2 separate regions of the Homo sapiens genome follow, and region 2 is linked to region 1. The links come from fine-mapping of genetic effects on gene expression. A gene starts in region 1. The other region holds a variant in brackets. All regions are shown on one strand. Distances are between the middles of the regions. Region 1 holds the start of FCER2 (Fc epsilon receptor II). Region 2 has its middle 7.4 kb from the start of CLEC4G.

Region 1 (2,785 bases):
GGACAAGGCAAACCAGGCAGGGGGAACCCTAAGAGGGGGATGTCACCTGGTCCAGGGGGAAGAGGGAGCAGCTGTGGGGATGGGGAGAAGCAGGTTATTTTTTTGAGACGAGCCAGGCGCGGGTGCTGGGTGAGCGGTGGGGTGGAAGATCGGGAAGTGCTTGGACAAGGCCTGGACCTGGGCCGGGGTGTCTGGGTGGATGGACGGACTGTCCCACCAATGGGGACACACGAGGAGAAGGAGGAGGAAGCTTGGGAATAAGTCCAGCTGGGCCATGTTGTGAGGACATGGGGATGAAGTCTTAGTTCCAGGATGGGGCTGGGATGGAGTTTGGTGTTTCTTTTCTGTTTTTCTTTCTTTTTTCTTTTCTTTTTTTTTTTTGTGAGACAGAGTTTAGCTTTTGTTGCCCAGGCTGGAATGCAATGGCGCGATCTCGGCTCACCGCAACCTCTGCCTCCCGGATTCAAGCGATTCTCCTGCCTCAGCCTCCCGAGTAGCTAGGATTACAGGTGCCCACCACCATGCCCAGCTAATTTTTTTTTTTTTTTTTTTTTTTTTGTATTTTCAGTAGATACAGGGTTTCACCATGTTGGCCTTGAACTCCTGACCTCAGATGATCCACCTGCCTCGGCCTCCCAAAGTGCTGGGATTACAGGCGTGAGCCACTGTGCCCGGTCTCTCTCTCTCTCTTTCTCTCTCTCTTTCTTTCTTTCATCTCACTGTGTTGCCCAGGCTGATCTTGAACTCCTGGGCTCAAGTGATCCACTCACCTCTGCCTCCCCAGTAGCTGGGATCACAGGCATGCACCACCATGCCCTGCTAGTTTTTATAGTTTTTGTAGAGACAACGGCTTGCTATGTTGTCCAGGCTGGTCTTGAACTCCCAGGCTTAAGTGATCCTCCCACCTCAGCCTCCCAAAGTGCTGGGATTACAGGCGTGAGCCACCGTGCCCAGCCAAAACTGTCCATATTTGACCTGAATATTATCTCACGTATCTTTCTTTCCCCCCGCTTCCCTCCTTCCCTCCTACTCCTCCTTCTCCCTCTCCTTCCTTCTGTCTTTTTTTTCCCCTTCCTCTGCCTCTCTCTCCTCTTCCCTTTTTTCTTGCTGGGACTCAAACCTGGGACATTTGACCTGGGAGCCTATTTGCTCAATCATCAAGAGACATAATCTCATGGTGGGGTGTCTGCTGGTAAGTGCCGGGTGGCAGGATCCCAACTCCAGGCCGTCCTTCTAACCCAAGAGGCCCTGCCTCTGCCTAGAGCCTTCCGTGGCTCCCCAGGGCCCTCTGTGATCGGCCATAGTGGTATGATTCAGTGTGCAGTAACAGTGGTTCACATCTTGACGCTACCACTCACCTCCTTCAGCCCTGTGGGAACTTGCTGCTTAACATCTCTAGTTCTCACCCAATTCTCTTACCTGAGAAATGGAGATAATAATAACACGGACTTCACCCGGGTGTGGGGAGCACCAGGAGAGGCCATGCGTGTAATGTTATCCGGGTGGCAAGCCCATATTTAGGTCTATGAAAATAGAAGCTGTCAGTGGCTCTACTTTCAGAAGAAAGTGTCTCTCTTCCTGCTTAAACCTCTGTCTCTGACGGTCCCTGCCAATCGCTCTGGTCGACCCCAACACACTAGGAGGACAGACACAGGCTCCAAACTCCACTAAGTGAGTACGTATCTGGTGTGTTGGGGGTTGGCCATGGGAAGTGGAGATCAAAGCGCCCTTGGAAGAAACGACCTTGGGCTGAGCCTCAAGGGATGACCAGCAGGAGGTCACAACCAGAGAAGGGAGGTGGTGGGTGGTGAGGGGGCGGGGGTGGGGGCCGCAGTGTGGACAGAATCTCGAGGCATTCGAGTCCCTGATTTGGGGAAGTGAAAGCAGGCCATCTGGTCTGAGATGAGCTTGGTGAGTGCGCTGGGCCGATCATAGAGGGCCCTGGGGAGCCATGGAAGACTCTAGGCAGAGGCAGGACCTCTTGGGTTAGAAGGACGGCCTGGAGTTGGGATCCTGCCACCCAGCACTTACCAGTAGACACCCCACCATGAGATTATGTCTCCAGATGATTGAGCAAATGGGCTCCCAGCTCAAGGGTCCCGGGTTTGAGTTCCAGTCCCACCACTGCGTGATGGGGACAAATGACTTACCCTCTTGGAACCTCAGTTCCACTGAGAGAGGCCCCACAGAATGAGGACAGTCCCCCAGCATCCTGCCAGTAGGTTTACTGAGCACCTACTGTGTGCTGGTGCTTTGAATACTCCCAATTTACAGATGAGCAAACTGAGCTGCTCATCCAGGAAGAAGCCAGGACTCGGACTCAGGTCTGTCCAGCTGCCTCCCTGGACAGTTCCAGTCCCAGGATGGTCTCTGGGTTCCTCTCACAATGTCAAAAGGGCCAGCTTGAGCTGCCGCTAATCAGAGCCTGGCCGCGCCACACCCCACCTCCCTGAGGCTCCGAGAGAAGGGACTTACCTATAGTCAAGCAGCGAAAGAAGGTAGCCCGTGACCTCCAGGCCTGAAGGACCCCAAGTCCCATGCTCCTCAGCACATAGTAGATGCTTTAAAGTCAGAGGACTTGGTCGGGCGCAGTGGCTCACGCCTGTAATCCTAGCACTTTGGGAGGCTGAGGAGGGCAGATCACCTGTGGTCAGGAGTTCGAGACCAGCCTGATCAATATGGTGAAACCCTGTCTCTACTAAAATACAAAAATTAGCCAGGTGTGGTGGTGGGTGCCTGTAGTCCCAGCTACTTGGGAGGCTAAGACAGGAGAATCGCTTGAACC
Region 2 (2,785 bases), 22 kb before region 1:
TCTAAATGCAGTTCTGCCACTATTCACCCAGATAGTGCAGACTCCACCCAGAGGTTAAGGACACAGTCCCCATCAAGACTGCTCTCATTTCAGATACCAGCTACAAGTTTGGGGATCCCCAGCCACCCACATTTCTGATCAACTGCCTACAAATTCTCATGACCCCTTCAGGTTCCATAATTCACTAGAATGACTCCCAGAACTTAGGAAATGCTATGCTTACGATTTCAGTTTGTTTTTTGTTTTGTTTTGTTCTTTGTTTTGTTTTGTTTTTTTGTTTGTTTTTTGAGACAGTGTCTCGCTCTTTCGCCCAGGCTGGAGTGCAGCGGTGCGACCTCAGCTCACTGCAACCTCTGCCTCCCGGGTTCAAGCAATTCTCCTGCCTCAGCCTCCCAAGTAGCTGGGACTACAGGCGCCCGCCACCACCATGCCTGGCTAATTTTTATATTTTTAGTAGAGATGGGGTTTCACCATGTTAGCCAGGATAGTCTCACTCTTTTGATCTGGTGATCCACCCGCCTTGGCCTCCCAAAGTGCTGGGATTACAGGCATGAGCCACTGTGCCTGGCCCTGATTTCAGTTTTCTTAACAAAATACAAATCAGGACCTGCCAAATGAGAAGATACATAGGGTGAGGTCTGGGAAGGTCCCAAACACGGAGCTCCTGTGTCCTTCCCCATAACGTCAGCACACATCACTCTCTCTATGCCTTCCCCACTCTCAGGGTGATGGGTTCACCAGCCAGGAAGCTCCAGAGCTCGGTGTCCTGAGTTTTTTTGGGGTTTCAGTATGTAGGCAGGATTGATCCAATTACTCCTTCAGTGTTTCAGTTTTGTTTGTTTTTTTTTTTTGAGACCCGGTCTTGCCCTGTTGCCCAGGCTGGAGTGCAGTGGCATAATCATAGCTCACTGCAGCCTCAACCTTCTGGGCTCAAGTGATCCTCCCACCTCTCAGCCTCTCGAGTAGCTGGAACTACAGGCACATGTCACCACCCTGTCCAGCTAATGTTTGTATTTTTTGTAGAGACGGGGTTTCACCATATTGTTCAGGTTGGTCTTGAGCTCCTGAGCTCAAGTGATCCTCCTGCCTTGGCCTCCCAAAGTGCTGGGATTACAGGCATGAGCCACCTCACAAGGCCTCGGGAGTTTTTAGTGGGGTCTCATTACACAGGAAAGATTGACTGAATCGTTGGCCTTGTGATTGAACTTTATCTCCAGTCCCCCTTTTGGTCAAGTGGCTGCAAATTCCAACCCTCATGGTTGATGTATCTGGCATGACCAGCACCCATCCTAAGCCACCCCCTCATATAAACCCAAGTGTGGTCCAGGGCCCTGATGAATAACAAAGACTCACAGCACTTGGAAAATTCCAAGGACTTAGACACTTCCTAGCAGGAACCAGGGACAAATTCTTTACCACACGAGCTCCTCCCATCTTGAAATCCATCATCACGTCTGCAAAGTGTCTTTTGCCATATAAAGTGATGTTCACAGGATCCAGGGATGAGGACATGGTATATTGCAGGTCATCACAAATCTGTGTTAGCCAGGGTTGTCCAGGACTGAACTGATAGGATATGCGTGTGTGTGTGTGTGTGTGTGTGTGTGTGTG[A/TGA]GATATAGTTAGGATATTTGTCCCCACCCAAATCTCATGTTGAAATGTATCCCCAGTGCTGGAGGTGGGGGCTGGTGGGAAGTGTTTTGCATCATAGGGGCAGATTCTTCGTGAATGGCTTGGACCATCCCCATGGTGATAAGTGAGCTCTCACTCAAAGTTCACATAAAATCTGGTTGTTCAAAAGTGTGTGATACCTCCCCTGCCACGCTGTCTCTTGCTCCTGCTTTCGCCATGTGAGACACCTGCTTCGCCTTTGTCTTCTGCCATGATTGGAAGCTTCCTGAGGCCCCTCCAGAAGCAGATATCTCTGCTATGCTTCCTGGACAGCCTGTAGAATCATGAGCCAATTAAACCTCTTTTCTTCTAAATTACCCAGTCTCAGGTATCTCTTTATAGCAATGCAAGAATGGCCTAACACAGCTGGGTGTGGTGGCTCACGCCTGTAATCCCAGCACTTTGGGAGGCCGTGGCGGGCAGATCACTTGAGGTCAGGAGTTCGAGACCAGCCTGGCCAATATGTTGAAACCCCATTTCTACTAAAAATACAAAAATTAGCCAGGTGTGGTGGCGGGTGCCTGTAATCCCAGCTACTTGGGAGGCTGAGGCAGGAGAATCACTTGAACCTGGGAGGTGGAGGTTGCACTGAGCTGAGATCACACCATTGCACTCCAGCTTGGGTGACAGAATGAGACACCATCTTGAGGAAAAAAAAAAAAAAAGAACAGCCTAACACAATATTAAAGGGAGTTTATTTGGGAGAATTAGCTCACACAATTATAAGGCGAAGTCCCATAGTAGGCTGTCTGCAAGCCCGGGAAAGACAGAAAGTGGTAGTGTGGCTCAGTCCAAGTCCAAAAGCCTCAAAAATCATGGAAGGAGACAGTGCAACCTTCAGTCTGCAGCCAAAGGCCCGAGAACACCTGGGAGGCCACTGGTGCAAGTGCCAGAGTTCAAAGGCCAAAGAACCTAGAGCCTGATGTCCAAGGGTAGGAGGAGAGGAAACCAAGTGATTGGCACAGCAGGGGAAGAGAGAGGGAGCTGACTCAGCGAGCAAGCCAGCTTCTCCCGCCTTCTTCCACCTGCTTTGTTCTAGCCACGCTGGCGGCCGATGGGATGGTGCCCACTCACATTGAGGATGGGTCTTCCTCTCCCAGCCCACGGACTCAAATAT

Evidence for each region. PIP is the estimated chance that this variant, and not a neighbour inherited with it, causes the effect.
Region 2: its variant is the best candidate, but not a certain one, in a credible set for the expression of FCER2 in whole blood (INTERVAL, PIP 0.78).

Annotation. Positions count from the first base shown.
Region 1 is chr19:7,700,905-7,703,689 of GRCh38, reverse strand. FCER2 (Fc epsilon receptor II) reads left to right here and starts at 1,559. Exons shown (of 11, transcript NM_001220500.2): 1 at 1,559-1,675. LOC105372262 (a long non-coding RNA gene) reads left to right here. Exons shown (of 5, transcript XR_936296.2): 5 at 569-610. RefSeq lists an enhancer at 1,563-1,672.
Region 2 is chr19:7,723,299-7,726,083 of GRCh38, reverse strand. No RefSeq gene overlaps it. Among named protein-coding and RNA genes, the nearest start is that of CLEC4G, 7.4 kb to the left of the region's middle. The variant A/TGA (reference allele first, on the strand shown) is at 1,612.